Linked DNA regions of Homo sapiens: region 1 is linked to region 2. Evidence: fine-mapped expression QTL. A gene starts in region 2. The other region holds a variant in brackets. All regions are shown on one strand. Distances are between the middles of the regions.

Region 1 (15,348 bases), 23 kb before region 2:
AACTCCTAGGCCTAAGCGATCCTCTGCAGAGTTCTGAGGTGGTGCAGGGCATCACATGGCGAGGGGGCTGAGTGTGCTAGCTCCGGTTTCCTTTCCTCTTCTTATAGCACCATGAGACCCACTCCCACGATAACCCGTTAATCTGTTAATCCATGGATCCATAAATGAGTTAATCCATTCATGACAGTAGAGCCCTCATAACTCAATCACCTCTTAAGGACCCCACTTCTCAACATTGCCACATTGGAGATTAAGTTTTAACATGAATTTTGGAGAAGACAAGCATTCAAACCGTAACATCATGTGAGTTATTGTTACTGTGACTTCTGGGACTCAGTACTGGTAACTTTATCCTTTACAAAGGGGAAGGAATACTGTGAAGAATTATTTCCAACTTCTGCTTAATTTCCCAGTTACCTGAGTTCTGCTTACCAAGGTGAAGTCAAGAGCTCTATTTGGCATTCCCTAGGATGGTCCCTGGGGTAGGCTGAATAATGGTGCCCCCAAAGAGATCTGCGTCTTAATCTCTGGGCTTGTACATACCCTATGTGTCCAGATGGGCTGGCAGATATGATTAAAGTAAGAATCTTGAGATGGAGAGATGATCCTGGGTTATTTGGGTGGGCCCTACATGTAATTACAAGAACCCTTATAAAACAGACACATAGACAAGAAGACAGAGAAAAGAGGATGAGGCAATGTGACCACAGAGGCAGAGACTGGCATGAGGTGGCCACTAGTCGATAGGTACAACTATTATGTATCAATATTTTTTTAAAAAAGAAATTCCTGGAGTCACCAGAAGCTGAAAGAGATAAGAAATGGATTCTCGCCTAGAGCCTCAGGAGGGGACACAGCCTTGCATACATCTTGAGCTTGGACTTCTGGCCTCCAGAAATGTAAGACAATAAATTTATGTTGTTTTAGGCCAGTCAGTTTGTAATAATGTGTTCTGGTGGCTTTTACAAATATACAAGCAGGCCAGGCACAGTGGCTCATGCCTGTAATCTTAGCACTTTGAGAGTCCAAGGCAGGAGGATTGCCTGAGGCCAAGAGTTCAAGACCAACCTGGCCAACACAGGTTCACTTTACTTTACATATATATATATATTTTATATATATATGTCTTCACTTTATATATATTATATATTTTATATATTATATATTTTATATATTATATATAATATATTTTATATATTATATATTATAGATATTAGATATTATATATTTTATATATTATATAATATATATTTTATATATTATATAATATATATTTTATATATTATATAATATATTCTATATTTTATACATTATATATAATATATTCTATATTATATATAAAATATAATATAGAATATTATATTTTATATATATTTTATATTTATATATTATATTTTTATATTTTATATTATATATATTATATATTATATATTTTATATTTTATATATTATATATTTTATATATTATATATATTTTATATTTTATATATTGTATATTTTATATTATACACACACACACACACACACACACACACACACACACACACATAATCAGCCATTGGCAGTTACAGCTGCCACCGGGCAGGGCGTGATGTTTAGGCACTGCTGTTTCTGAGAACCAAGTCCAAAGGGCGCCCCCTAAGAATGGCCTTTCCCTTGCCCAGGAGCTAACCCTGGGGAAGTGGATGGTGTTAGGCTGGAGAGAGGTTCTTGCTTCTTCATCTCATCCCGAATTCTGAAACTTGGCTGCATGCTGAGCCCTTTAAATGGGTCTGGCCAGCCAATGGAACAAGCTCCCATAAGAGTACAAAAGCCCAGTGCTCAGCCAGCTCCAAATTCGTAGTGCCATGGTCCTCTCTGGCTCTCTAGACCCTGCCCCCATACCTGCCTCAAGCACTCTTTGCTTCAATCCCCCACACCTCACATGTAATAATTGTCACCATTTCTGGAGCCATGGCTCTCTGCCAGCACCTTTTATGAAGACTTCACATGTGCTGGCTCATGACTCTTCACAACAGCCCCATAAGACAGGTCCATTGTTAGCCCATTTTATAGATGAGGAGACTGACTTGAGCTAGCTCAAGGTCACCTGCCTGGTGAGTGGCAGGCACAGTGCAGTGATTTGGACCTGGCCGACTGGCTTCCTAGGCCAAGCTCTTCATCATGACCCTACGTGCTGACTGCATCATGGTCCATCTGGCACCTCCTGGCTCCTCATGCTGCAGCCCTGAGCCCAAGGCTCCCTTCTGACTGTCCCAGCCTCCTCCCCAGGGAGAGAGACCTGTAAGTCCATAAATGCTGTGAGGGTGCTCAGTCTGGGCAGGGAGATCCTCGCTGTAGACACCTTTCAGACACTTAGTGGTGGGTACTACAGAAAACGTTAGTTACATGTAGTTGGGGACCTAGGGACAAAACGACTTGCTTAACTGATGAGCAAATCTGAGAAAAAATTAGGAATCAAAATATGATTGTTTTAAATGGTTTTATCAAAGTGGCTAGACTTGCCCTGTTGATTTTGCTCAGCCCTGTTCATTTTGAATAGCCTAACAGCTCTGAGTCAAAATGGCCCCAGGCTGAGCTAGTTGCCTAGGGCAGGCCAGGAGGGACATTCTAGGAGCTGGGACTCTGTCTATAGTAAAAAGTCTGCTTATCTACCCTCACAACAACTTTCAGACACCCTGGAGAAGAATGAAAGAATGATCCCTCATCTAAGAGTCCCCAGAGTCCAGTCAGGGAACTAGCAGATGCCTTCTATCCGGGCCAAGTTTCCCAGATTCTTGTTTTGGCTATAGAGCTAAGATCCAAAACATCTAGCTCCACACAAATAAACTTAGAAAGAGCTGCCAACGGTGACCACTCTGAGGGGAGTGACCATGTGCAGAAAGACAGTCAAGGCTTGCAGAAGTCCTGCCATGACGGCTCCTGCTCAGAGGACATCTCTTAAACCATTTCCTTACGTAGCACACACCAATTCCCCTCTATTCTGCATGGTACATGACACATTTTGGGAAACATGAAATATTAAAGCTGGACTGCGGAGCTCCTCAACCTAATTGTGATGTGATGATTCACGCAGCACAGGGGCCTTGCAGCTGCAGAATCTCCCTTTCTGCAGAACTGTTGCCTCCCTGCTGTAGACCAGTGGTTCGCCACTGGGGGCGATTTTACCCCTCAGGGGACATTTGGCAATGTTTGGAGACATATTTGGTTGTCATAGTTGGTGGGGAGAGTGCTGAGGGCTGTTGTAAACATTCTCCAATGCAAAGGACAGCTCTGCACAAGAGAAAATGATCTGGCCCCAAATGTCAGTAATGCTGAGTTAGAAATCCTGGGCTAGAGCCATAGAATAATGAGCAAATAAAGCACTTAATCCTCTGATGATGGCCTGAAAATTGCTCTGATGGATTTTGCACTCGGTGTAATTTAATATTTTCCATAGACGCGTAAAAGCCTTCCTCAGAGCCTCTCCACTCCTTCTATAGCTTCTGCACAGCCAAAAATTAAAAATGTTACTTAATTGTTTAAAAAAAGAAAACCAATTTGAGTCAGCAAGCATTTAGTTGTCAGACTTCTACCAACCTAACAAGCATATTGATAAAACACTAACACACGTGTTAGTTGCAAAAGATGCAATATTGATTTATTTAAATGTCATCATTGTGGTGCTTTTCAATCTTCCAACTGTGTAATCCTAAAATAAATAAATATATATTTCACACACCACACACACACACACACACGCACACTATTAGCAAGTGACATTGGATAGACAGGTGTCCTCTCTTTCCTCTACCATTTTCCTGAATGCAAAAAGAAGAAACGTGGTGTAAAGGCAATACTCTGAGAGAACCAAGACAAAGCAGGAGCTTTAAAAATCCACCCCCTGGGTCCTCTAATAATCAAAGGTTTACCAGAATATATTTATTTTCAAAAGTGTCTGAATTCTGCCTTACTGCCTATCATACAGGCATGGGCATTTGAAAGAGAGATGGATTTGAATGTTGGGGAATCTGCATGTAGGTGGGTACAATACGGGGTTAGGCTGGGGCACATATTTTCATGGTTCATAAGCAAATTTCCTTGTGGCTCACTCAGATTAAATTCTTTCAAGTCCTTGGCCTGTGAGCTAGTGCTAATTTGCGTGGTATTATTTTTCCACCTGATTTGCAAACCAAGAGAATGATAGCAAATGTTGGCCTCCTTTCCTCCTCAGCATGACCAGTCACCCATGTGGTAGGATAATTTATTGAGATATTAATGTGTTTTTTGTTCTTCCGGAATTTTACCCACCCCTGTTCTCAGAAGATAGCTGGGCCTTTGTGTTCCTTGCCTCAGAGTGTTTTTAGGATCCAGGACCAAGGGGAAGTTTAGACAGGTAGCCAGGCTTCTCTCACTCCTTCCTTGGATTTTTAAAAATGTCTAGGCTCGGCCAGGTGCAGTGGCTCATGCCTGTAATCCCAGCACTTTGGGAGGCCGAGGCAGGCGGATCACAAGGTCAAGAGATCGAGACCATCCTGGTGAACATGGTGAAACCCTGTCTCTACTAAAAATACCAAAAAAAAAAAAAAAAAAAAAAAAAAAATTACTGGGCGTGGTGGCAGGTGCCTGTAGTCCCAGCTATTCAGGAGGCTGAGGTAGAAGAATTGTTTGAACCCGGGAGGCAGAGGTTGCAATGAGCAGAGATCGCGCCACTGCACTCCAGCCTGGTGACAGAGCGAGACTCTGTTTCAAAAAAAAAAAAAAAACATGTCTAGGCTCAGTGAAGGCATTTGCTAGGCAGGGGGATTTAACAGAGAATGTGAAAGTGCATAAAGAAGCACAGAATTTTGGGGAAGCATGAAGAGACTCCAAGGTTAGGAAAGGAGAGTTGACTGGGGTCTGTGTCTGGCCTGTTTCTTGGAGGTGATCCAATGTGCTGGGGAACGGTTAGGTGTGTGCAGAGAAAGACTCATTTTAGGCACCAGAAACCGAGTCTCAGCCAATAATCCTGTGCTTGAACTTGATGCAGAACCAACAGTGCCACCCACCTGCACGAGACCAGGTGATGGAACATGGACTATGGGTCCTCCTCAAATGTGCTCCCAGACACCCTAAGGACATTGACCCAACATGAGGGGCTTGGGGTAAGGAGCTCCAGTGATGACTCAGACTAAATTTCTAGCCAACCAAACAGAAAAGAGGGCCTAGAGTCCAAAGTGATTGGACTTTTGAAAAATAAACCAATGCTATGTTACTTTGATTTTTGAGTTTGTAGAGCAAAATCCATCTGAATTCATTTACCTATTGAGTGAGAGTAGGGTAGGTTCTGTTAGAGCAACAGCTTAATCCTGAAATCGGAGTGGCTTTTCAAAACAAGAGCTTATTTCTCACTCATGCTACTTGTCTCGTGAAGGTCAGTAGGGATTCTGCTCCACACACTGACTCAGGGACCCAGCTTGATGAACACACCAAGATCCCAACAAATGGTCTTCACAGTCATCAGGGCAAGAAAAGAGAGGAACTGGAAGATGAAGTGCTGGCTCTTCAATGCTTTGGGAAGCGACGCAGATCACATCAACTGATAACCCATTGTCCAGGACTAGTCACATGACCCCAACTAACTGCTGGGGGCTGGAACACACGGGAGAACAAGTGGACTTTGGTGAGCAGAAAATGCCTCTGCCACAGCCTCTTGGTACTTATTGAACATAGGATGTGTCTTTTGATTTAATACTATTAATAGTTTGCATTTGCATAAATCTCATTATAAAGGCATTTTAGGTTATTTCCATTTATTGTCTTATTCTCCTCTCCTCAAGCTCTTAAAGAAACTAAGGTCCACAAAGTGGAAGTAACAACATAATAAGTGGAAAGGAGGAATAAAAGCCAGGGTTGTGACCTGAGCTTTTTCTGCTCTTCCACAGTGGCTGCAGAGAAACGAATGCTTTGTCAAGAATTTAATTTGAATTTCCTTGGAGCCTTCTTAAAGATCATGGTGGTGGTGGGTGGGGGGAGACACAGAACCTGATTAACTGTTTGCTGTTGAGAAAGCAATGACTGTACCAAGATTTTACTGAGATTTTTG[C/T]GAAATGGGCTGGTTTCCCGAAATGGGCTGGTTTCCCGACAAAAACTCATTCCTTTCTCGTTAAAATACAATTGCTTCCTCTTCTGGGAGCTGGTTTTATGCTATGTTGCAATGCACCTCTTGTTTCCACTCCAGCTAACTGTGTCCTTAACCTTATCCTGACCTCATAGAACCACAGCCCTGGCTCAGCACTTAAGTAAAACCCGCCCAGAGAGGGGCATGGGGCTTCTGAGCTGGAGTGGCCCCGAACTGGAAGGGACTTGAATGAGAAGGGGCATATCATGGATTGTCCCAGGGTGGAAACCACCTGGACTTCTGCCTTGGTGAGCAAAAATCAGACTCAAGAGGAACCAGTGTCCCAAAATGGGCCTACAGTGTGAATGAGGAAAATAGCTAACTACCTCTTATGTGGCACTCACATGGGGCCAGGCAGTTTTAAGCACTTTGCTCTTTTAACTCATTTCACCCCCACAGAAACTCCTCATAAGGTCAGTATTATTATTATTACCACCATTGTAAACATATGGGAACCAGATATAGGCAGCAAAAATGACACCTCCAAGGTGGCACTGCTAGTACAAGGCAGCGTTGCGATGACACCCGAGTATGACATCTGAATATGTGTAAGATACTCCACCAATAATGATTTTTCCCCCTGATTAGGAAGACCAAAAAACTTTTGTATAAAAATAAAAAACTATGGTGCATAAGGAGGGATGAGTTGGATAACTTTTAAAACGTCTGATGCTTATTGCCAACTTGCCCTCCAGAAAGAGAAAGCAACCTATACTTCCAGAGCAGGGTACTGGGAGTAATTCTGCCTCGATAATCTCTGGGCCCTGATGCAAAGGGGTGTACTGTGACAGCATGGCTCACTAAGCCTCCTGGACACAAATCTCTTCTCAAATTGGTTTCCAGGACTCAGGCTCAGACATGAAATAAAGTTAAACTCAGTGTTGAGTTTCGGCTCTGGAGTTGAAAAGGTATCTCCGAAATGCAGTTTTTCTTTCTTTCTTTCTTTCTTTCTTTCTTTCTTTCTTTCTTTCTTTCTTTCTTTCTTTCTTTCTTTTTCTCTTTTCTTTCTTTCTTTTCTTTTTTTCTTTTCTTTCTTTCCTTTCTTTCTTTCTTTCTTTCTTTCTTTTTCTTTCTTTCTTCTTTCTCTTTCTCTCCTTTCTTTCTCTTTCTTTCTTTTCTTTTCTTTCTTTCTTTCCTCTCTCTCTCTTTCTTTTTTCCTTTTTTTTTTTTTTGACAGAGTCTCACTCTGTTGCCCAGGCTGGAGTTCAGTGGTGTGATCTCTGCTCACTGCAGCCTCCGCCTCCCGGGTTTAAGCGATTGTCTTGCCTCAGCCTCCTGAGTAGCTGGGACTACAGGTGTGCACCACCATGCCCGGCTAATTTTTGTATTTTTAGTAGAGACAGGGTTTCACCATGTTGGCCAGGATGGTCTCGATCTCCTGGCCTCGTGATCTGCCTGCTTTGGCCTCCCAAAGTGCTGGGATTACAGGTGGGAGCCACTGTGCCCAGCCAAAATCCAGTTTCTTGTGTAACATACTCTGTCTGAGCCACTTTCTTCATCTGAAAATGAGGATAAGGACTGTACCTGCTTATGGGGTTGTTGCAGGGAGTAAATGTGTGGTGGGTGAAGTGGTCAGCACTGTGCTTAACATAGAGTAAGTGCCGCACAAGTGTCACCTGCCATCAAAGTGTCACCGACTCACCAGAGGCACGGTTTGAAGGGAAGGTCTCCAGGGAGCAGAGATTAGCCTGTTTAACCAGTTTAATAAATGCTTTAGTAAAAGAAAAAGAGTTGTTCCTAGAATCAGCAGAATTCCTGTCACTTCAAGGAAAGTCATTGAGAAACATGGGCTCAGCAGTTTGCACTGAGAAGGGTATGTGCATGTAGGAGGGGAAGGGGGGCAGAGTTTCCAAAATAAGTAGATTGATTGCGTTCTGTGTTTTCTCCCCATTTGCAAGCATTAGGTAATTGACGTCGAAGTGATGGAGGAGAGATCAATATGTGTGTTTTCTCTCTCGCTAGAAGCATGAGAGGCAGCTAAGTCAAGTGAGGGCGATGGCTGGGCTGGAAGCACTGGTGCCTTTCCCTGACAACAGGAGGCCACAAAAGCCATTTCATCATCATCATCCACCCAAACATCAAACATAAATGGATAAGGCTGCATATCGATAAGTATCAAATAACCTGTAAGGAATATTAAAGCATAATCAACTAGCAGTGGTCCTTTATCTGCTTGAGGATCAGTGCTGTAGGAAACCAGGCACCCTGCTCAGTGTGTTCTGTACATGATCTGACTCCATCTTCCCAGCCACCTCTTGGGGTCCAGATTACATCCCACTTTATAGACCAGGAAACTGAGGCTTGGAGGAAATGAGCCTTGGCCCTGCATAGCGCTTATGTGGAAGAGCCAGGATTAATTTTTTTTTTTTTTTTTTTTTTTTTTTGAGACAGAGTCTCGCTCTGTAGCCCAGGCTGGATGGAGTGTAGTGGCATGATCTAGGCTCACTGCAACCTCCGTCTCCCAGGTTCTGGTTCAAGCAATTCTCCTACCTTAGCCTCCCGAGTAGCTGGGATTACAGGCACACACCACCAGGCCCAGCTGATTTTTTTTTTTTTGTATTTTTAGTAGAGACAGGGTTTCACCATGTTGGCCAGGCTGGTCTTGAACTCCTGACCTCGTGATCCGCCCACCTCGGCCTCCGAAAGTGCTGAGATTAGTGCCAGGATTTAAACCCAGAGTTGCCTGACTGCCAAGTTTCTCTTAACCATTCATTTACCAAATATTTGTTGAGTGCCTACTATATACAAACAGCATTTTAGATACCTGGGTTACAATGATGAAGACACAAAGAAGCCTCCATCTTTCTATTAGTTTTCTGTTGGGGCCCTAACAAACTACCACAAACTTAGTGGCGTAAATAACAAAAAATTCCTTCTCTCAGTTCTGGAGTCTGAGAGTTTGAAATCAAGGTAGCAATAGGACTGTGCTCCTTCTGGGGACTCTAGGAGAAAGCCCCTTCTTTGCTGTTTCTGTCTTCTGGTGGCTATTGGTGTTCCTCAACCTGTGACCACCTCACTCTACTCTCGGCCTTTGTGGTCACGTTGTCTTCTCCTCTTCCGTCTGTGTCTAATCTCCTTCTGCATTCCTCATATAAGGACACTTGACATGGAACTTAGGGGTCACTGGATAAGTCAGAATGATCTCCTCATCTCAAGAGTCTTAATTATATCTGTAAAGACCTGTTTTTTTTAACCACATAAGATGATAGTTGGCTGGTTGCGGTGGCTCATGCCTGTAATTGCAGCACTTTGGGAGGCCAAGGCGGGCAGATCATGAGGTCAGGAGATCGAGACACAGTGAAACCCTGTCTCTACTAAAAACAGAAAAAGTTAGCCGGGCGTGGTGGTGCGTGCCTGTAGTCCCAGCTACTTGGGAGGCTGAGGCAGGAGAATGGCGTGAACCAGGAGGTGGAGATCGTGCCACCGCACACCAGCCTGGGTGACAGAGTGAGACTCCATCTCAAAAAAAAGATGATAGTCACAGGTTCTGGGGATTAGAACATGAATATCATTTGGGGAGCCATTATTCGGCCTACCTCAAGGGCCATCCTAGGGAATGCAAAATAGAGCCACCACTCAAACCAATTCAACCCTTGAAGAGTTTAAGATCTGGCTGGGTGTGGTGGCTCACGCCTGTATTCTCAGCACTTTGGGAGGACGAGGCAGGTGGATCACTTGAGGCCAGGAGTTTGAGACTAGCGTGACCAACACGGTGAAACCCTGCCTCTACTAAAAATACAAAAATTAGCCAGGTGTGGTGGCACACGCCTGTAATCCCAGCTACTTGGGAGGCTGAGGCAGGAGAATCACTTGAATCCAGGAGGTGGAGGTTGCAGTGAGCTGAGATGGTGCCACTGTATTCCAGCCTGGGTGGCAGAGTGAGACTCCATCTCAAAAACAAAACAAAACAAAACAAAACAAAACAAAAAAAAAACCCAAACACAAAAAGCTTAAGATCTAATGAGGCTATACACTAAGCAAATCAATACACAAAAAGGCATTAAGTGGTGTTAAGAGCCCAGCTGAAAATAAAACAGGGCTTGGTAAGGACAACATCTGGGACCCCTGTGGGTCAGCAGGACAGGAAAGTTCTCTCTGAGTGGGCAGTTTTGAAAGTAGACGCAAAGGACAAGAAGCAGCCTGCTGATCATCTTCACATCTTCAGTAGAGCCTGACCATTCTGGTTCATCAGCTTAATTTATGCCTTAATGAGTAAATAATACTTCTGGATGAGTTGGGCATAGCATCTCCTGCCAGGAGAGGGAGGAAGAAGCATTTTCTTATATGCAAATAAAATGGCTTTAATATCATAAACTGCAAGCAGCCTTAACAGACCACTGTCTTCACAACTGCCAAAAAGAGCTGCTGCGGACCAACTGCTATAAATCCTAGCTCATCATATTTGGCTGACTTCCCCTGCCTTTTAATGATTTTATAGCTAATAACAGAACAGAATGTCGTCTCATTCAGTTACTTGGGGTGTACATTTTGCAGTGAGTTAAACCCAGAGAGGCCACTGGTGAGTTACGCTGATAAAGTTAGGCATTCAATGGTTGCTTTATTGATGTTTTTTAATACCTAAGGTAGGTGTTTGGTTACAGTCTCTTGGAGTATTTTTCCAGCCAAACATTTTGCAGCCACATTCCATGGCATGTGGCTTTGAGGTATTGATTACCCGCTGGCTCGCCTGTCACAGCAGATTCAAAGGTATTGTCTGAAGGGAATCTAGGCTGGCCCTTAGACCTGTGGCTTCCCTGTAGACAGAGGTCAGTGGCTTTGAGTTCACTTGCCTATCCTGTTTGACTCCATGACTTCAGAAAGAGCCTTTTGTTCCTACCTCTAAGTTCAGTTAATTGGTAAATCTATTTCTTTTTTTTTTCAAATAACAAACACTATGTTTATTAATATCCCTCTATTCAACCCCTCTGCCTCCCACACTTCCGAGTCTTCATTGTGTATTATTGCACTCTCTTCATCCGTGCAAACACATTCTTTTTTGTTTTTCCACCAATACCATGGCTTTATTTATTTTTTTTTTAGGTTTTATGTAAATTTTTCTTTTTTTAAATTATACTTTAAGTTCTAGGGTACATGGGCAAAACGTGTTATTTTTCTGTACTGAATGACAACCCTGAAAAACTGCACTCAAAGTGTTTCTGAAAGTTTTATCCTAAATGCACTGCCACTCAATGTCAGTGAAAAGCCCTGCTGAAAAAATCCAGGTTCATGGAGGGCTGCCCAAAGAATGTGCCTGCTGCCCTTTCCTCTGGAGCCTCAGCAATTTAAATTCTCTCCTGAGATGAGACAAGAAAGCAGGCTTGATCACCACGATCGCGAATGGGTGGGGTGGTGCCTGGGACATGACTTTGGAATTTGCTGTGGGGCACAGTGCTAGCAGAGAGACTCACTGAGAGCCATTGCTGGGTAATTCCCCTATGGATGTGATGGAAAATGCTAGTCCTGACACCATACAGTGTCCTCTCTTGGAGGAGGTGAGGCGAGAAGGACAAGGAAGGTATTCATCTGCCTAGTCACTACCAGGAATTACCAGTGAATTACCTAGTCACTACCAGTGCCCTTCCTGGGTCACTGGCTGCTTTTTACCTTATAGACATGGTTGGTGGCTCCTCCCCACCAAGCAGGGCTGACTCTGTGGTGGGAAGGTTCTCATGGCAAGTGTTCTGAGAAGTTCCTCACTCTTGGCTCCACTGGTCTTGTGTATCCTTCTTTTTCCTTTGGCACATTTTTCTCAACCATTTTATATTGTGATATATCAGAATTATTTTGTGATTTACCTAAAAGATTAACTCTTGGATAAAGATATAGGTATAGATAATCTACTAGATAATCTTTTATCTAAAAGATTAAATTTTTTTTACAAGAGTGAAGATAAATGGTAACTGCATGGCCTTTGTATTTGTCATGGAACATGATTCAAGTGGACTGAATGGTCCCCCAAAAGATAATCCCTGGAACCTGTGAATGTGACTTTATTTGGAAGAAGGCTTTCGCAGATTTAACTAAATTAAGGATCTTGAGATGAGATCATCTTGAATCATTTAGGTGGACCTGATAGCCAATGACAAGTGTCCTTATAGGAGAAAGACCCACATAGAGGAGGAGAAGACACAGACAGACAAAGACAGAAGAGGAGGAGGCAATGTGATCATGGAGGCAGAGATTGGAGTGATGCAGCCAGAAGCCAGTGAAAGCTGGCAGCCACAAGAACAGATTCTCCTCTCAAGCCTCTGGATGGCGTGCTGCCCTTCTGGCACCTTCATTTCAGATTTCTATCCTTTAGAACTGTAAATAATACATTTTTGTTGTTTTAGGCCACCCACAGTGGCTTAAACAGTGACAATTTGTTACAGCAGCCCTAGGGAACAAATATAGTTACCAAATTCCCTTTCAGACCTTGCTCAGGCAATGCTAAGAGATCTGATGGTTCAAGACTTGACTTCCAACTTTCTTTTTTTTTTTCCTTTTGAGACAGAGTCTCATTCTGTCATCCAGGCTGGAATGCAGTGGTGTGATGTCGTTCACTGCAACCTCCGCCTCTCAGATTCAAGCAATTCTCCTGCCTCAGCCTCCCGAGTAGCTGGGACTACAGGTGCCCACTACCATGCCCAGCTATTTTTTATTTTGTATTTTTAGTAGCGATGGGGTTTCTCCATGTTGGCCAGGATGGTCTGAAACTCTTGACACTTCAGGTGATACACCTGCTTTGGCCTCCCAAAGTGCCGGGATTATAGGCATGAGCCACCGCGCCTGACTGACCTCCAATGTTTTGGGAGTGTGACACTTCGGGCATTCACCCTTGGCTGTACAGCTCACAGAGAGTTCTCTGCCACAGGGTCTAGGCTAGTGCAGCAAAGTGTGTAGCAGAAAATCCATCCTTGATGATATATCTAATTTTCTGACAGCAAATTATACCAGAAGATCCAGTCTCAGTTTCTCACCATTACATTAAAGTAACATAATGATTATCATTATAATACCTATGGAGCACAAAATTTTTACCTGTGTTGCTTTGATATCATTAAGTTGCACTGAGGGCATTTTTATCCATTTCAGTGGAGAGTGGAGAGCTCTCCAAGAGGTTCAGCCTCTAGGAGGTGTCACTGCAAGGGCAGCACCTATGTTTCCTGCCGAATGTTTTCACCAGAGGCCCTACATGGAATCCACTGTGGACAACTAAAGCCCAGTTAGTCTGGGGCAATGGGCAAGCTGCTTCATAATAAAACATCAATTGGCTGGATGCCTTTCCATGGAGATTTTCAGGCCAGAGTCTTACGAATTATAAAGACCAATATTTTGCTGTGGTGATCTAATGACATACAATTTAAAAGAGCTTCAAGAAGTGGAAAGGACTCTACATGTTCATGGTGTTAATAATCTTAACAACTATTATCACAAGTGCCCTGTAGATAAATGAACAGATAATGGTCTTGGAAATACACATAAAATATAGGCTGTCAACAGAACTGATGAAGAAAAACAAACCTTCACTTTTGTTTCTACGTATTATGTTGGTTAATATGAAAGGAAGTGCTTATGAGTTTACAAAGCAAGCTTTAAAACCTTTGTGAGATGATACTGTATGCTTGATTCATCCAACCACAGCATCTGCAGCCTTGGTAGGAGTAGAACAATTACAGGAGGAATGCCAAGAGAGACAAAGAGCCAGTTTTCAGCTTTTGACGTAAAAAAAAAAAGGGGGCCCAGAAGAAGGGGAGCTCAAAGCCCATCCATAAACAAATAGATTAAAAAGATAATAAATGATGAACTAGATATTTTGCTTTAAGGAGAGGATCCAGGCTCCAGACTGTCTCATCTGGGAGGCAGAGAGGCTGGGGTCACTTCTTTAAGGAAGGAAAGGCCAAGAGGCCTCTTGAGGCTGTAAGAACCATATGGGAGGAAAAAGAAAATTTCAGATATGGCTTTGCCCCTGCCCCAGGGAACTGAGATGGAGACAGGCCTAAGCCAGCAGATTGTCCTTGGCCATTCCAGGTGAGTTAGCCTCTGTTTTAGTTTTCTAGGGATGCCATAACAAAATACCACAGACTAGGTGGCTTAAACAACAGAAATGTATTTTCCCACAGTTCTGGAGGCTGGAAGTCCAAGTTCGTGGTGTCAGCAGGGTTGATTTCATTCTGATGCCTCTCTCTTTGGCTAGCAGATGGCTGCCTTCTCTCTGTGTCTTCACATGGTCTTCTATGTGCATGAGTTCCTTGTATCTCTCTTCTTATGAGGACACCAATCATATTGGATCAAGACCTACCCACAGGACCTCATTTAACCTTAATTATCTCTTAAAAGGCCCTGTCACCAAACACAGTCACATTCTGAGGTGTACTGGAGTTTAGAACTTCAGCATGTGAATTTGAAGAGACACAATTCAGTCTATACCAGCCTCATTAGGTTTTTGAAGGGTTGTATTCAATTTCTTTCACTTTAACATATGGCACGGGGTCTTACCACTATCAGCTGTCTGCCCACTGCTGGACAACTCACCAGCAGAAGGGATTTCCCTTGAGCTTTTGCTCAGTAGAAGAGAACTAAGTTGTGTAGACCACTTTCTCTTCAATGGCCAGGATTCCTGAATCTCCCCAGATAGCCTTTGATTTATGTTGGCCAACATAGTATGGCAGAAATGACATTTAACAGGTTCTGGCCTGTACTTCAAGAGGCTGTGGAGGCTTCTACCCTCTTTTGCAACCCTGTTGCCACTATATGAACAAGTCTGCATTAGCCTCCTGGAGAATGAGAGGTGGAGGCCACGTGGAGCCAAGATCACCATTCCAGCCCAGAACCCAGACATGGGAGGCAGTACAGCCAAGATCAGCGGAACCAATGCAGTAGCTGACTACAGACACCTGAGTAAGTCCAGTAGAGACCAGAAGAACCATTCAGCTGAACCCAGCCAGAAGTGCTGACCTGCAGAATCGGGGGCTAAATAAGTGGCTTTTGTTTTAAGTCACTAAGTATTGGAATAGTTTGTTATACAGCAAAAGCTAACAGTACACAGGGCCTAAAAGATACTCTCTTAGGCTCAAGTGGTAGAAGCATTGTCAAAGTCATGGAAAGGAGTTATCAGAGACCAATACCATGTTCTTACTAGTGATAATAGTTTGGAGTTGGGGGCAAGGGGAGCAGAAGTCTTGGGTTTGGGCACATCAATTTTGGAGAAAGGAAGGAAGTTTACTCTAT
Region 2 (15,348 bases):
TAAAAACCCAAGACATTCAAAACTGCACAAATGTCATCTTCCATTGTGTGAAATCAAAAAGGAACGTGTGGGTGAGTGGGGAGGTGGGGAGACACACCATAACCTACCTCTTATTGGTAATGAGCTTGAATTGTGGAAGGATACTTTCTGACTTCATACCATTTCTTATTAGTATGATGGTCAAAATTACAAAAAAAAAAAAAAATCACTCAGACTAATGGTCTCTTGTGGGCAAGTGGCGAAGAACACTGATTTGGCTTATTTTATTCTCTGTACTTCTCCTGGTGTGGTGGACAGTTTGCTGATACAATTATTTTGGATAGGACTTCATGTTAGGTATTGGCATGGAGGCATCCACATTTTTTTTTTTTGAGATGGAATCTCACTGTGTTGCCCAGGCTGGAGTAGAGTGGCACGATCTCTGCTGACTGCAACTTCCACCTCCTGGGTTCAAGTGATTCTTCTGCCGCAGCCTCCTGAGTAGCTGGGATTACAGGTGCCCACCACCATGCCCAACTAATTTTTGTATTTTTAATAGAGATGGGATTTCACCATGTTGACCAGTTTGGTCTTGAACGCCTGACCTCAGGTGATCTGCCTGCCTCAGCCTCCCAAAGTGCTGGGATTACCAGTGTGAGCCACTGTGCCTGGCCCTCATATGTTTATAAATCACTAGATTTTAAATATTGGCAGGGCTACAAACAAGGAGAGCTTGTCTGTGAAGAGAAAAACAATTAGCAAGGTCCTTCATTGTTTCTTCCTCTGCTGTCCATTCTATTTATTTGTCTGCTGCTAGGATCTAGGGGTGTCCTCGACCCTGCACATAATGGCAGGCCCCCTGTCTTCATCAGCACTGCTACATCCTCATATTTGGCAGGGAGCACTCTCATTTAAGGTAATGAGTGACTCCCTTTCACAATAGAACTCTGAGTGTGGCTCAAATTCACCCTGGCTAATGAATCTTCTGTATGGTTTTTTTTTTTTTTTTTTCTGAGGCAAGGTTTCACTGTCACCTAAGCTGGAGTGCAGTGGCACAGTCATGGCTCACTGCAGCCTCAACCTTCTGGGCTCAAGCAATCCTTCTGTCTCAGTCCCTCAAGTGACTAGGACTACAGGTATGTGTCACCACTGGCTATTTTTTTTGTTTGTTTTTTGAGACGACATCTTACTATGTTGCCCAAGCTCATCTTGAACTCCTGGGCTCAAGTGATCCTCCCTCTGCCTCTGCCTCCCAAAATGTTGCGATTACAGGTGTGAGCCACCCTGCCCGGCCTTGTGTTTCATTTTTAACCCTGATATAAGTAACAACACATCTGCTTATTAATATGTTCATGTTAACATTTACTATCCAGTTTGGGTGGAAGGAGAGTGTTCTCTGCCTCTGAGGTCCAGTTTTAACATTTATAAGTGCAGCGGGTCCTCCTGTTGTGGCCCACAAACCTTACTTGGGAAAATGTCACATTTGAGCAACCACACAAAACTACTCTGTGATCTCTGAATATAGTAAGGTCACCAGCCCCCACTTGATCTTCTGTTAAATGACCAAGATCATTTCTGGTCAGAAAGTATGTGTGTTTTTGCGAGTTTTTTTTGTCTTTGTTGACACATAATGGTGTAGAAATCAAGCTTAAAACTGATTGTAGAACAGTTTGGTGAGAAAGATTTTTGCTTTTCTGCCATAATATTCCCCTGGACTTTGCTTCGGGTCCAAAGTAACACCGGGAAGTTTAAGACCACAGAAATGTGACTAAATGAATGCTGATCACATTTACAAAAGCAAGTGACTTTGTCCAAAGTCTCTCATTCTCAGATCCATAGTAGACATATAGATACTTTTTCTAAGGGCAAAATTTCCTGGTTCACTAAGCCAGACTTCCATGTTATTGACGAAATAAAGATAATATTGAAAATGACAGTGTCTGAGAAGCAATCTCAAACTGCCTTTTATTACTGCACACAGTTAACGTGGAATTGAGAATCACTTTCTTTCTAACATAAAATGTGAGCCGTAGAGTTACTACTGAAATTCACCACAGTGATTCAGCCAACAACTCAACTTATTCCTTTGCAAAAATTTCTGAAGGTTTTTTTTTCTCCCTTCAATCTCAGCATTACAAAATAATGAGCAAACAGTTAAATTGGCCCAGCTCTGAGTTTCAAGAGAGATTTATGGTCTGCTCATCCTCTGGAGGGACCATAAAACCACCGATGACATCTTACTTTGAAATCTCTTGTATTAAGTAAAGAGATGGGTGTGGTGCGATAGTGAACTCTGCATGTGAGTGGTATTTAGACAAGTTCTGTACTTCAAAACAGAGTCCTTAACTCATACGAAGGCTTCCTGCCACTAGCAAGGGATCTCAGTAATGAGCGTGCTGCCTTCCCTAACACCCCCATCCTTTTCCAGAAAGATTCTTAATTTTATCCTAAATATATTTGATATTTTTTCCTCTGTATTTTGCTTTGGGTTTAAAAAATTCCCTGAAAGATTTTTTTCTCGTCTGTGGAAGCATCAAGCCGCAGATCCAAGTCAGTCCAAATCACCAGGATCATACAAGACGATAAAAGTGCCTTCAAGTTCTAATACTTGCTGGATGGGCCCAAGCCGCGTTTTAAATGTGAACAATGGGGTGGCTGCGGCAGAGAACTGACCATTTACTTCCTGCCTCAGATGACCCCCTTGTGATCTCTGAAACTGGGCAGAGGAATAAGGAAAGGGAAAGAACTGGGTTTTGGGGAGAAACATGCTTTCTGGAAGGCGCCCAGGTTTACCCAAAGAGCACAGTTAAGTGCTGAATTTCAACTAGCTCTGGAGTCACCCTGTTTGGGGCCTCATTCTGGAAACCCGAAGTCCAGCGGCAGCTTTCCTCCACATCAGGACAGAGAGTGGGGTTTGGGAGCGGACGAGGGAGCGGGAGTGGACGAGGGAGCAGGAGTGGGGCTCAACGACGACCCAGGCGCTCAAGGGGAAGGGGCTGAGAGCGTTTCTTCGCTGTGCGGCTGCAATAGAAACTTTTTCCTCGTACTATCTGACTCCGGGACTGGACTGTGAGGTCTGCAACAGCTGGTGGGGTTCGGGTGGGGAACACACTCTAAGCCCAGCGCCAGGGCTGGAGCCGTGGGTGGAGCCGCTGCAGCCCTGGGCCGGGGGCGTCAGGAAACTCGAGACTGGGGCGCGGGGAGGCCCCGGCCAGAGCGCCCGCTCTCCCGCGTCCCGGGCGGGGTCCTCACCTGTTCCAGCGGGCCACCTTCCTCCGGTAATACCGCAGCGCCTCCTGGCTGGCCAGGAGCGAGTCCTCGGCTCCCAGGAGAGGCGGCTCCTCCGGGACGTTGTACAGCGGGTGGGCGAAGAGGGCCTGCAACTTGGAGCTCGACCCGCTGTGGCTGCCGCCAGCCGGTTCAGTCCGGGGCTCGGTTCGGGAAAAGTTGTGCACGATCGTGCCGGGGTCCGAGGCAGCTGCGGCCGAGTCCCGCGCCAGGGAGGAGGCGCGGCCGGTGCACGGGCACCCCCGCGGGCGCTCCCGAGGCCGCAGCTGGCGCTGTACTTGGGGCCAGAGGTGGAAGTAGAGGTCGGCGGAGAGCAGCGCGCCCAGCAGCAGCAGAGTCAGTAGGCGGTCCCGGCGCAGCCCCGGCATGGCGTGCTGGCCAAGGGGGACGCCGGGGGCAGGCCGGCTGTCTCCGGGGTCCCGGGAGGGGTCGCGGGGTGCGGGCAGAAGAGGTGCCTGGAGTCCCGCGGGTGGGCCGGGGTCAGTGAGACCGGAATGCTCCCCGCGCGGGCTAGTCCCCTGTGGAGGGGTGTCGCTCCTCAACTTGGGGACCAGGTGCACGGAGCACCGGGGCTCTCGGAGTCAGCGGGCGTCGCTTCTCCGCGCCGAGTGAGCCGAGGGAATGGGGTTCCCGGGGTGCCCGCTTCTTGCGCCTTTTCTCCCGTGCGCCCGCCCGCCCGGACGCTCGCGGCAGGTGAAGGGCCCCGGGGCGCCGGCGCCGGCTGCCACCGCGGGCGGACGGGCGACGGGGCGGGGGGCGACCGCGGAGGGCGGACGGAGGCCGCCGGCTGCAAAGCCCGGGGCGTCTCTCCTGAGGATGCTGTCGCTCGGCGGCGGCTGCTAGTGCTCCCGCGACTCCTCCTGCGGGCGGCGGAGACGCCAGTGCCGGCGGCTGGCACGGGCGGCGCGAGTGGGGAGTTGGCGAAGCAGGAGCGGCTCCGGGGAGCTTGTCTGTGCGCCTGGACTCCTAGAGGCAGAGGTAGCGCGGGGCCTCCCCGAGCCTGGCCTGGCGCCGGCACCCCCACCCACTCTCCGCTGGCACCTGCCTCTGGCGCAGCTGACGGCCAACTCCCGATCCGAAGCCGGCGCTGCCCTTGCACCTTGTCACCCACCCACTGCCTGCGCCCTCCCCCTCGCTCGGGCCTCCCACTTTCCCTGCCCAGGTCTCAATCCAGTCACTTTAAGGGACTCACGCGAGGGGTCCGAAGCCTCTTTTTACCATTTCTATTATTTTTAGGGAAAAAAAAACCACCACAAGCCCCCTAAAACCCTTTTTTTCCTGTAAGCTTTGCCAAATGAGTGTGTGGGGGGGGGTGGGGGGAGGCGGGGGTGGCAGTGTTGGTATCTGTTCTTTCTTTGTGTTCCCTTCCACCTCCGCCCCCCTGCAGAGCGCAGGGCACATCAAGATTCATAACAACTACCTACCACATGCCTGGCACATAGTAGGTGCTCAGGAAACACGCTCTTGGTGAAGGAAAGAGCTTGACCTTTAAAAGTAAGGTATCAGTTTTACCTAGAATCTTGCTGATTTCCTGTTTGGAAGGAGTTTGATTCCAACTCTGCCTGTACTTTAAAAAGAGGAAATGTTTCTTGCACTCAGGGAGGGAGGGGCCCTGATGACCCCACTCCGAACTTTTGAGTTTAGCTTGGTGTGAAAGTAGTCCACCCAAATGAATCACTGGAGGACACATTTAGGCTTTCTCCAATATTCTGTGAGGTAATGTACCCTCCCCACACCCAGTTTTCCTTTTGAAGAAGAGGGAGGGAGTCCTGAACTCCTGGCTCCTCTATTTAATGACCCCATAGTATAGTAAAGTGAAGTCTGATTGGAGAGGCGGCCCCACCCTGCTGAATTTCAGGAAATCCACCAGAAGCTGCTTGCCCAGGCAGCAAAGCTTCCCATGTAAGTTAGTTCTACTCTTTAACCCCCTCCCTTCCCTTGCTGGAATTGAGAACCCTCAGACATACTTTGACTTGTGGGTTCAGACCAGAGTTCTTTTCCCCGTGGTTCAGTGTAAGATTTCTTCGGGACTTTGCAGTCTCCTCAAATGTAAATGAAGATAATGATGGAACCTACCTCCTAAGGTTATTATGAGACTTAAATGAATTGAAGTACAATTATGTGTCACGTCTGAGAAATGCATCCTTAGGCAATTTTCCTGTGTGTGTGAACATCAGGGTGTACTTACACAAACCTAGATGGTTCAGCCTACTACACACGGAGGCTACATGGCATAGCCTGTTGATCCTAGGTACAAACCTGTACAGCATGCGACTACTGAATGCTGTAGGGAGTTGTAACACAGTGGTGAGTACTTGTGTGTCTAAACATAGGAAACATACAGTAAAAATACAGTATTGTAATCTTATGGGACCACTGTTGCATTGACTAAAATGTTATGTGGCACTTGACTATGTATAAATTACTTAGAAGAGCTCCTAACTCATCCTAAATAAGTGTGAAATATGTGTTTGCTATCATTATGATTACTTATTAGTTCCTGTAGTACACTAGGCTTGGTTAGAGACTGCTCATCGCTAGGACAAAAATAGAAAAGGATGGAAAAGGAAGATAGCAGGAAGGAACCTGCTTTCAGGGGCATAACATTGTGGCCTGAGTGCCCAGTCCAAGTGAAAAAGCCCAAGACGGTACTATTCCCAGCTACTCCACTCCTCTGGGTATGATGGTGGGCATTTTGAGGGGTTCTAGAACCTCCTCCTTTTTATCTGGAATTAAATTTTAACTGATTTCCAATTTCTGAGAGACGTTGCAACTTCTAATGTGTTTAATTAGATGTCATGGCAAGCGAATGAAGAAGTCAGGCATTGAATGGTGGTGATGTAACTGCAGTAACTGTGTGGCAAACTGATGCGCATTTTTCTCGGCTGGCAAAGGACGTGGATGTGGTGACACTGCAGGTCTTGTGACTTCAATTCTCCTCAACCCATGGGGTCATACTCGCTTAGTAGACTCTTTTTTTTCTGGCCCCAATTTAGGGAACAATAGTGTAACTTGCTTGGAAATTATGTAAACATATTTTCCATGCCCTTTAAAGGTCACAGTCAAGTGCAGAACTGCATGTGGGAGTTAGATATTAAGTGTGAATGAAGCTGGATAGGAGAGTGGAAATCCTACCAGTAGGATTGGCCAATAGGATGTTGGCTTCCTCAGGTTTGCCTCTAATCTACCTTTACCCCTCCTAGAAATGAGCCTTCTCCTGCTCCTCCGATCTTCCATGTCTTGGGCCCTGGCTTACTTGCCAGCCTCACATACATCCTCTCCGTTCACACTGAAGGTATCCTAAATTGCTGTTTGCTGGGACCCATCATTCTGTTTAAAATCTTTCATTGGAAGCCCCTCCCTCCTTTTCCATCTCTACTGATCTTGATGTATCTAGAGCCTCATAATCTCTTGCTCATACTTGCAAATAGGCTTCTAACTGGTCCCTCTGCTTCCATGGTACCTTAGTTCAGTGCCCACACACACTCTTGCCAGAGTGAGACTTCTAGTATGCAGAGGCAACCAGGATATTCTCCTCCTGAAAACCCCCTGAGCTTCTCCTTGTTGCTGGATTAGGTCACTCATTGTGACACAGCTCTTCGTGGTCTGGCTTCTACCTCCTTTCTTCTTTATATGCCCCCTCTTTCGTCTTCACCCCACAAGACTTTCTGCAATTCCCAAGTGCTCCAACCTTGTAGGGGTGGGTTGCCCCTCCACACCTGTGGGTGTTTCTCATAAGGTGGAACGAGAGACTTAGGAAAGAAAAAGACACAGAGACAAAGTATAGAGAAAGAAATAAGGGGACCCGGGGAACCAGCATTCAGCATATGGAGGATCCCCCCAGCCTCTGAGTTCCCTTAGTATTTATTGATCATTTGTGGGTGTTTCTCGAAGAGGGGGATGTGTCAGGGTCACAAGACAATTGTGGGGAGAGGGTCAGCAGACAAACACGTTAACAAAGGTCTTTGCATCATAGACAATGTAAAGGATTAAGTGCTGTGCTTTTAGATATGCATACACATAAACATCTCAATGCTTTACAAAGCAGTATTGCTGCCTGCAGGTCCCACCTCCAGCCCTAAGGCGGTTTTTCCCTATCTCAGTAGATGGAGCATACAATCGGGTTTTATACCGAGACATTCCATTGCCCAGGGACAGGCAGGAGACAGATGCCTTCCTCTTGTCTCAACTGCAAGAGACATTCCTTCCTCTTTTACTAATCCTCCTCAGCACAGACCCTTTACGGGTGTCGGGCTGGGGGACGGTCAGGTCTTTCCCTTCCCACGAGGCCATATTTCAGACTCTCACATGGGGAGAAACCTTGGACAATACCTGGCTTTCCTAGGCAGAGGTCCCTGCGGCCTTCCGCAGTTTTTGTGTCCCTGGGTACTTGAGATTAGGAAGTGGTGATGACTCTTAAGGAGCATGCTGCCTTCAAGCATCTGTTTAACAAACCACATCTTGCACCGCCCTTAATCCATTCAACTCTGAGTTGACACAGCACATGTTTCAGAGAGCACGGGGTTGGGGGTAAGGTCACAGAATCTCAAGGCAGAAGAATTTTTCTTAGTACATAACAAAATGGAGTCTCCTATGTCTACTTCTTTCTACACAGACACAGTAACAATCTGATCTCTCTTGCTTTTCCCCACACAACCTCTCACAGATGTGTCTTTAACCGAAAGCTCTTTCTCCTTTCCCCACCTGGAAAACACCCATTAGTCCACCCAAGCTTTGGCCACTTGTCCAATTTTTCTCTGATGCTTGTCTTCATACCCATTAAACTCAGTGCCTTGTGCTCTCATGTGCCCCCACAGCTCCTCATATGTTCCCCTATTACAACGTTGGCCATGTTGGGTTTCCTTTTTAGTATGTGTTATGGGTTGACTATATCCTGCTCTCAAATTCACTTGTTGAAATCCTAACCTCCAATACTTCAGGACGTTACCTTATTTGGAAATAGGGTTGTTGTAGAAATAATTAGTTAAGCTGATAGCGTACTAGTGTAGAGTGGACCCTTAATGCAATATGACTTGTGTCCTTATAAAAAGGAGAAATTGGGACACAGAGACATGCATACAGGGAGAATGCCCTATGAAGATAAAAGACAGATTGGGCAATTCTTCTATAAGCCAAGGAATACCAAAGACTGCCAGCAAACACAAGAAGCTAGGTAAGAGGCATGGAACAAATTTGTCCCTCACAGCCCTCAGAAGAGTCCAACTCTACTGACACCTTGACCTTGGATTTATAATTCTAGAACTGTGAGACAATAAATTTCTGTTGCTTAAGCCACCCAGCTTGTGGCACTTTGTTACAGCAGCCATTGCAAATTTACACAGTACACATGTCTGCCATCTTCACTGGAGCACTACTCCTGAGTGTAGAGGGAGAATGCTACTTATATATGTACACAGAGCTCTGAGGATGGGGCCTATCATTTGAGAAATGCTCAAGAAATGTTTGCTGAGTGAAGGCAGAGATATTGGCCATCTCTACAACTGTAGAATCTCGCATATGGCCTAGTATACAGTAGGGGCTAAATTATTGTTTACAATAAGATGACATAGCTTTGGACCCTGTAGGAGACATAAAGAAATATATGACACAATTCCTTCCTGCCTTCAAGAGTCTTGTGATCATCAGAGAGTCCAGCTATACCTGTACTCACAAGCCAATGGGAAAAAAGTATGAGGTAGTACACAGAGCAGATTAGCAATCTGTGCCATTGCATGCATTAAGAGGAGCAAATGCAAAGGGCAGTTGTGTTTCCTTTCAGTCTAGCTAAATATCAAGCTCTCTACTTGCAGGAGTTAAATCATGAAAACAATAGAGTCAACATTTAAACACCAAGTTCCTCTATCTGTGAAGGTTAGACTCTATTTTTATCTTGCCCATGTTCCCGTGTTGCTTAGAACTTGACTAGTTGTTTTTTGTTTGTGTAGGCAGTTTTCTATACTAGACTATAACTCCATGAGTTCAAGGGTAACATGTTTTCTTTTTTATTTTCCTGTCTTCATAGGATCTTAGACACAGCAAGGCATGCAAATGAGAATTAACAAATTCCTGCAGAATAAATGATGTTTGTGGGTTTATGTGTGTTCATACATGGAGGTGGGAAGTGGTTTGGAAAAGAGCACTTAAAATAAGAACATAAATGTATATAATCTAGCTCAAGATAAGTGTTAAGTTAGAACATCTACATAAGTGTTAAGTTAAACATCCGTTATGGTTTTTTTTTTCTTTAGACAGGGTTTTTCTCTGTCATCCAGGCTGGTGTGCAGGGTGGCAGAGTGTGATCTGGCTCATGGCAGCCTTGAACTCCTGACCTCAAGTGATCCTCCCACCTGTCAGCCTCCTGAGTAGCTGGGACTACAGGCTCATGCCATCAGGCCTGGCTAATTTTTTTTTTTTTGGTAGAGATGGGATTTCACCATGTTGCTCAGGCTGGTTTCCAACTCCTGAGCTCAAGCTATCTGCCTGTTTCAGCCTCCCAAAGTGTTGGGATTACAGACATGAGCCACTGTGCCTGGCCCCAGTAGATGTTTACTTAGAACATCAATGGAAATTGCCTTGATCCTATTGAAAAACCAATAAGTAAGAGACACATAAAGAAATAACTAAATGTAGACATCTATGTCCCTCACAGTTTTTATTATAGTATAGATGCATGTGAGGAATGTTACCTTTACCTGCTAGCTGTCTCAGTAATCAGCAAGAGATGCAATTGAAATTACTATAAATGGAAGACCTAGAATGGAGTGAACTTAAGAAACTGAAACTGATTTAGTATTGCACTCAACACCTTATTCTGAGGTAGAAAGTCCAAAATTTTCTAATCGTGACCAACACATAATGCCTCAGCATAAGCCAGAGATTTCTCAAAGTGCAGCCTGTGGATCAGAAGTACCTGATGTGCTTATAAAAATGCAAATTCCAGGGCCACACCATAGTTCTAGTATTTTTTGGAGGTGGGGCCAGGAATGTACATTTTCAATAAGCTGATTCTTACCAGCTTATAAGATTCTGACACACATTGAAGTTTGGGAATCACTGGTTGAAAGGACAGTGCTAATGAGAGCAAAGTCACAGATTTGATTCCAAATAGGCTAGGTAGGATCCATTGTCTAACATTGGCCATCCAACTTGTGTCATAAGGTTCTAAGGCGCTAAAGAGAGAGAGACAGAGAGTACGTGTTTCCCCATCATTGCTACTGGGGAACACAAATAAACAAATAAGTGCCTGTTCTTTACAAATGATGGGTATGTAGTGTGATCTTGCTATAAAAAGTCATGGCTGTACTTATTGGTAAATTTCCCCTGGGAAACTGAACTACCTTCCCTGGATCTCAGTTGCCTCATTTGAAACATGAAACGCTGAAGTGAATGATCTTTAATGTCCTTTTCAGCTCTAAAGAATGAGAATTTTACTTTTTTTTCTACTAAGCATATATTAATCTAGACCTTTTCACACAACTTTATTTCCAGTATAAACCAAATACTTGAGAAAGCAAACCAAGGCATTTTGTAGGAAGAGTAAGAGCACTGGATTGGGAGTTAGGGAGCTTACACTGTAATCTTGGCTCAGTCATTAACTAGTTTGGTGGCATGGGACAAATTAATTAATGTCTCTGGGCTTCCTTTGCCTCACGTGTAAATAACTATTTTGTGGTAGACAATTTCAAAGTTCTCTTCCAGCATTGAGTTCCTTCAGGAGTGAAAATGAGGTAAAGACATTCTTAGATGAAAGAAAACTAAAAGAAACAATCACCAGCAGACCTGCTCTAACAAAAATGCTAAAGAAAGATTTCAGATGGAAGGCAACTGCCACCAGAGGGAAACCTGGAACATCAGGAATGAAGGAAGGGCAACAGAAATGGTGAAAATATTGGTAGATATAACAGATTATTTTTTCTCATCTTAAGTTTTACAAAATATACCTAATAATTGAAGACAAAAATTATAGCATTATCTGATAGAGATTCAGTATACAGAGACGTAATACGTATGACCACTACAATACGAAGGGAAGAGGGTAAAGGGACTTGTTTGTTGGTAAGAACTCTGCATTCCACTTGAAGTGGTAAAATATTAATTCCAAATAGCTGAGAAACATTAAGTATATATGTTATAATTCCTAGATTATAATACTATACTGTACTAAGAGATATAATAAAATTAAAAACTATACTGAGAGACATAATAAAAATAATAAATATATTAAAATGAAACACTAAAATTACCCAAATCATACAAAAGAAAGCAGAAAAGGGGAAAGAAGAACAAAAATATAGGAAATAAACAGAAAACAAATTATAAAATGGTAGCCCTAAATGCAAACATACTGATAATTATATTAAATATAAATGGCCTAGACACACCAATTAAAAGACAGAGATTTTCAGAATGAATTAAAAAACAACTCAATGTTATGCTGCCTACAAGAAACCCGGTGTATATATGACCACTGGTAACTTAAAAGGATAGAAAATGACATATCAGGCAAACACTAATTAAAAAGAATCTGGCATAATTATATTAGTATTACTCAAAGTAGCAATCAAAAAGACAATATACCAAGAAGTCATAATAATTCTAAATGTGTATGCCTCTAACAATACAGCTTCAAAGTACATGAAGTAAAACTGATAAAACTGAAAGGATAAATGGGAAAATTCAACAGTTATAGCTAAAGACTTTAGTGTTTCTTTTTCTGCCACTCACAGAGCAAGTAGACAGAATATCAGCAAGGATATAGAAGAACTGAAAAATACTATTGGCCAACTAAATCTAATTTAACATTCATAGGACACTTCACTCAAAAGCAGCCTAATACACATTATTTTTAAGTGTACATGACATTTACCAAGATGGACTATATCCTCCATTATAAAACAAGCATTTAAATTTAATATAATCAAATCTTACAAACTGTGCTCTCTGCTCATAATAGAAATAGACTGGAAATAAATGACAGAGAGATATCTGGTAAATCTCCAAACATCTGAAAACATAAACATGTACTTACCACATGACCCAGTAATCCACTGCTAGGTATTTACTCAAATGAATTGAAAACTTATGTGTGCATAAAAACCTACTTATGAAAGTTTTATAGCAGCTTTATTAATAATTGCCAACATTAAGTAGTGCATATGTCCTTCAGTGGGCAAATAGATAAACTGTTGTACATCATACAATGGAATACTACTTAGAAACAACAAAGAACAAAATATGGGTATACATGACAGCATTGATGCATCTCAAAGGCATTATGCTGAGTGATAGAATCCAGTCTCAAAAGGTTACATATTGTATGATTACATTTATATGATAGCCTAGAAATGGAAAAGCTATGGTGACAGAGAATAGATCATTGGCTGCCAGGCATTAGGGACCGTGATGAAGGTATGACTACAAAGGTACAGCATTAGGAAGTTGTTTTGGGTGATGGAACTATTCTATATCCTTATCATGATGGTGGTCATGTGAATCCATCCATGTGTTAAAACTGACAGAACTGTACATTAAAAAAAGGGCAACTTTATTGGCCCTATTGTTCAATTATGTTAAAACAAAATAAAATAAAATAAAAAACAAAGGTTGCATACCTCCATCCAAAAGAATTTTGCCTGTAGCCTGGCTCATAATAGCAAATAATTGCACAAAAAAGTAAACATCCATCTATAGGGAAATATGTTAATAAATTGTGGTATTATTATGTAATGAGCAGTTAAAATGAAGGAAGTACAACTGTATTTTCTCAGCAAAGATACATCTTTAAGTTGTAAGAAAACATGAATATGGGGTGTGTGTGTGTGTGTGTGTGTGTAGCAGTATGATACTATTTAGATAACCTTCAAAACTGGCAAACTAGGCCAGGCACAGTGGCTTACACCTATTACTCCAGCACTATGGGAGGCCAAGGAGAGAGGATCACTTGAGGCCAGGAGTTTGAGACCAGCCTGGGCAACATAATAGGACCCCTCTCTACAAAAAATTTTAAAAATTAGTCAGGTGCAATGGTGTTCATCTGTAGTCCTAGCTACATGGGAGGTTGAGGCAGGAGGATATCTTGAGCCCAGGAGTTTGAAGTTATAGTGAGCTATGATCATGCAACTGCACTCCAGTGCCTGGAGACCCTGTCTCTGAAAAAGAAACAAACAAAAAATTGGTAAAATTATAAAAACATGCATGAGAATAATGAATACTGTCTTAGTCAGTCTGCTGCTATAACAAATATACCATAGATTGGGTGGCTTAAATAAAAGAAATTTATTTTTCACAGTACTGGAGACTGGTAATTCCAACATCAAGGTGCTGGCAGATCCAGTGTCTGATGGGGACACTCTTCCTGGTTTGCAGATAGCCCTTTTTTCATTGTATCCTCACACACTGAAGAAAGAGTGAGCATTGGTCCTTTCATCCCCTAATAAGGGCACTAATCCCATTTATGAGGGCCCCATCCTCATACTCTAATTACCCCTTGATATGATTTGGATGTTTGACCCCTCCAAATCTTGTGTTGAAATTTTATCCCCATTGTTGGAAGTGGGGCCTAATGGGAGGTGTTTGTGTAATGGGAGCATATCCTTCATGAATATATTAATGTCTGGGAGGGTAAGGAAGACTGTTCTCATTCTATTAGTTTCCGGGAGAGCTGGTTGTTAAAAAAGAGCCTGGCATCTCCCTCCCCTCTCTCTTTTGCTTCCTCTCTATGGCCATGTAATCTCTGTACACACTGGCTCCTTTTCACCTTCTGCCATGAGTGGAAGCAACCTGAAGCCCTCACCAGAAGCAGATGTTGGTGCCATACTTCTTGTATAGTCTGCAGAACTGTGAGCCAAATAAACTTCTTTTCTTTATAAACCACCCAGCCTCAAGTATTTCTTTATAGCAACACTAAAATACTGAGACACCTCCCAAAGACCCCACCCCTTAATACCATCAAATTGGGGATTTAACATATGAATTTGAGGAGAACACAGATATTCAGTTCTTAGCAAACACCAAATTCAGCACAGTGATTACATATGGAATTAAAGTGAGAAAAAAGTGCTTGTTGAAGATTATACATGGGGCTTCAGCAGTAACTGAAATGATTTCTTAGAAAAAAGATCTGAAGCATATATTACAAAATGTTAAAATTTGACAAAGTTGGGTAGTGCTATATGGATGTTGGTCACATTATTCTCTATCACGTTATGACTCATTCTCTTTACTTTTCATATTTACAATATTTATTAAAAATCTGACTTGATTCATTTTGTGACCTCATATCCTGGACTATTCTAGGTTTTTAAAGAGACCATTGAAAGAAAGCGTTGGGCTTTGACATTAAGGTGAAGCAGGTTAATAAGCAGCAGCAGTCAAAGAAATTTGCTCTATTTTATTTTAAAGGAAATACATGGTAGAGGGCAAGGAATATGTGTAAGAGCAATTTCAACTTAAATTAACTGAGTTTATATTTTAAAAGGGGAAGAAATTCACAGATTTTATGCGTGGCTGCTTTCAGACTGTGCAATTCATCTGAACAGAACTCTTGCATATATTATGTGAGCTTTACATGCCAGACTGAACAACAACAGATGTGTTTTCCCTGTTTCAGTTTTTACTACCTTGACAGTACAGCTATTCTTAGAAGGTGGGAAGCTGGGACTTCTTGGGTCTTTAGAATGTCATGTCTTAAAGTATCATAACTGTTTTCTAGCAACTCCTAATCCACTGTATGAATTCACAGCTAGTGGGTGAGACAAACATTAAACAAATGTAACACAAATAAATATCTTGGTCTGGCTCAAAGTTCAGTGTCAGAACGTCAATACAGCTAAAATAAATAGAAATGACTCCAAAAAGCTTTGAAAATTAACATAGGTCTTCACTCAGTAATTTTTGAGGGAATGGAAAAGGAGAATTACATTATGGAGGTATACAATTGTTAGTATTCCTTTCTAAACATCCACAATACATGTCTCTCTCCACAAAGTTCAGGCTTTGTAATCTCCTTTTCCTTTTTACCCTCTCACCCCAATTCCCATAAACTCCTCCCCACCTATGCCTGTTCTCTTCTCTTTATTTCAT

Alleles and levels. Positions count from the first base shown, and alleles are read on the strand shown. Sizes are in standard deviations (SD) of each study's normalised expression.
In carriers of allele C in region 1, the expression in whole blood of the gene that starts at base 4,336 in region 2 tends to be higher than with T alone (moderate effect, 0.46 SD a copy in GTEx).

Evidence for each region.
Region 1: its variant is fine-mapped to the expression of FAM20A in whole blood (TOPMed, PIP above 0.99). The same link has a PIP of 0.9 or more in blood mononuclear cells and fibroblasts.

The regions. Positions count from the first base shown.
Region 1 is chr17:68,574,286-68,589,633 of GRCh38, forward strand. All of the region lies in intron 1 of FAM20A (FAM20A golgi associated secretory pathway pseudokinase), which reads right to left. Among named protein-coding and RNA genes, the nearest start is that of FAM20A, 19 kb to the right of the region's middle. The variant C/T (reference allele first, on the strand shown) is at 6,064.
Region 2 is chr17:68,597,032-68,612,379 of GRCh38, forward strand. It overlaps FAM20A (FAM20A golgi associated secretory pathway pseudokinase), which reads right to left and starts at 4,336. Exons shown (of 11, transcript NM_017565.4): 1 at 3,232-4,336. The coding sequence starts at 3,635.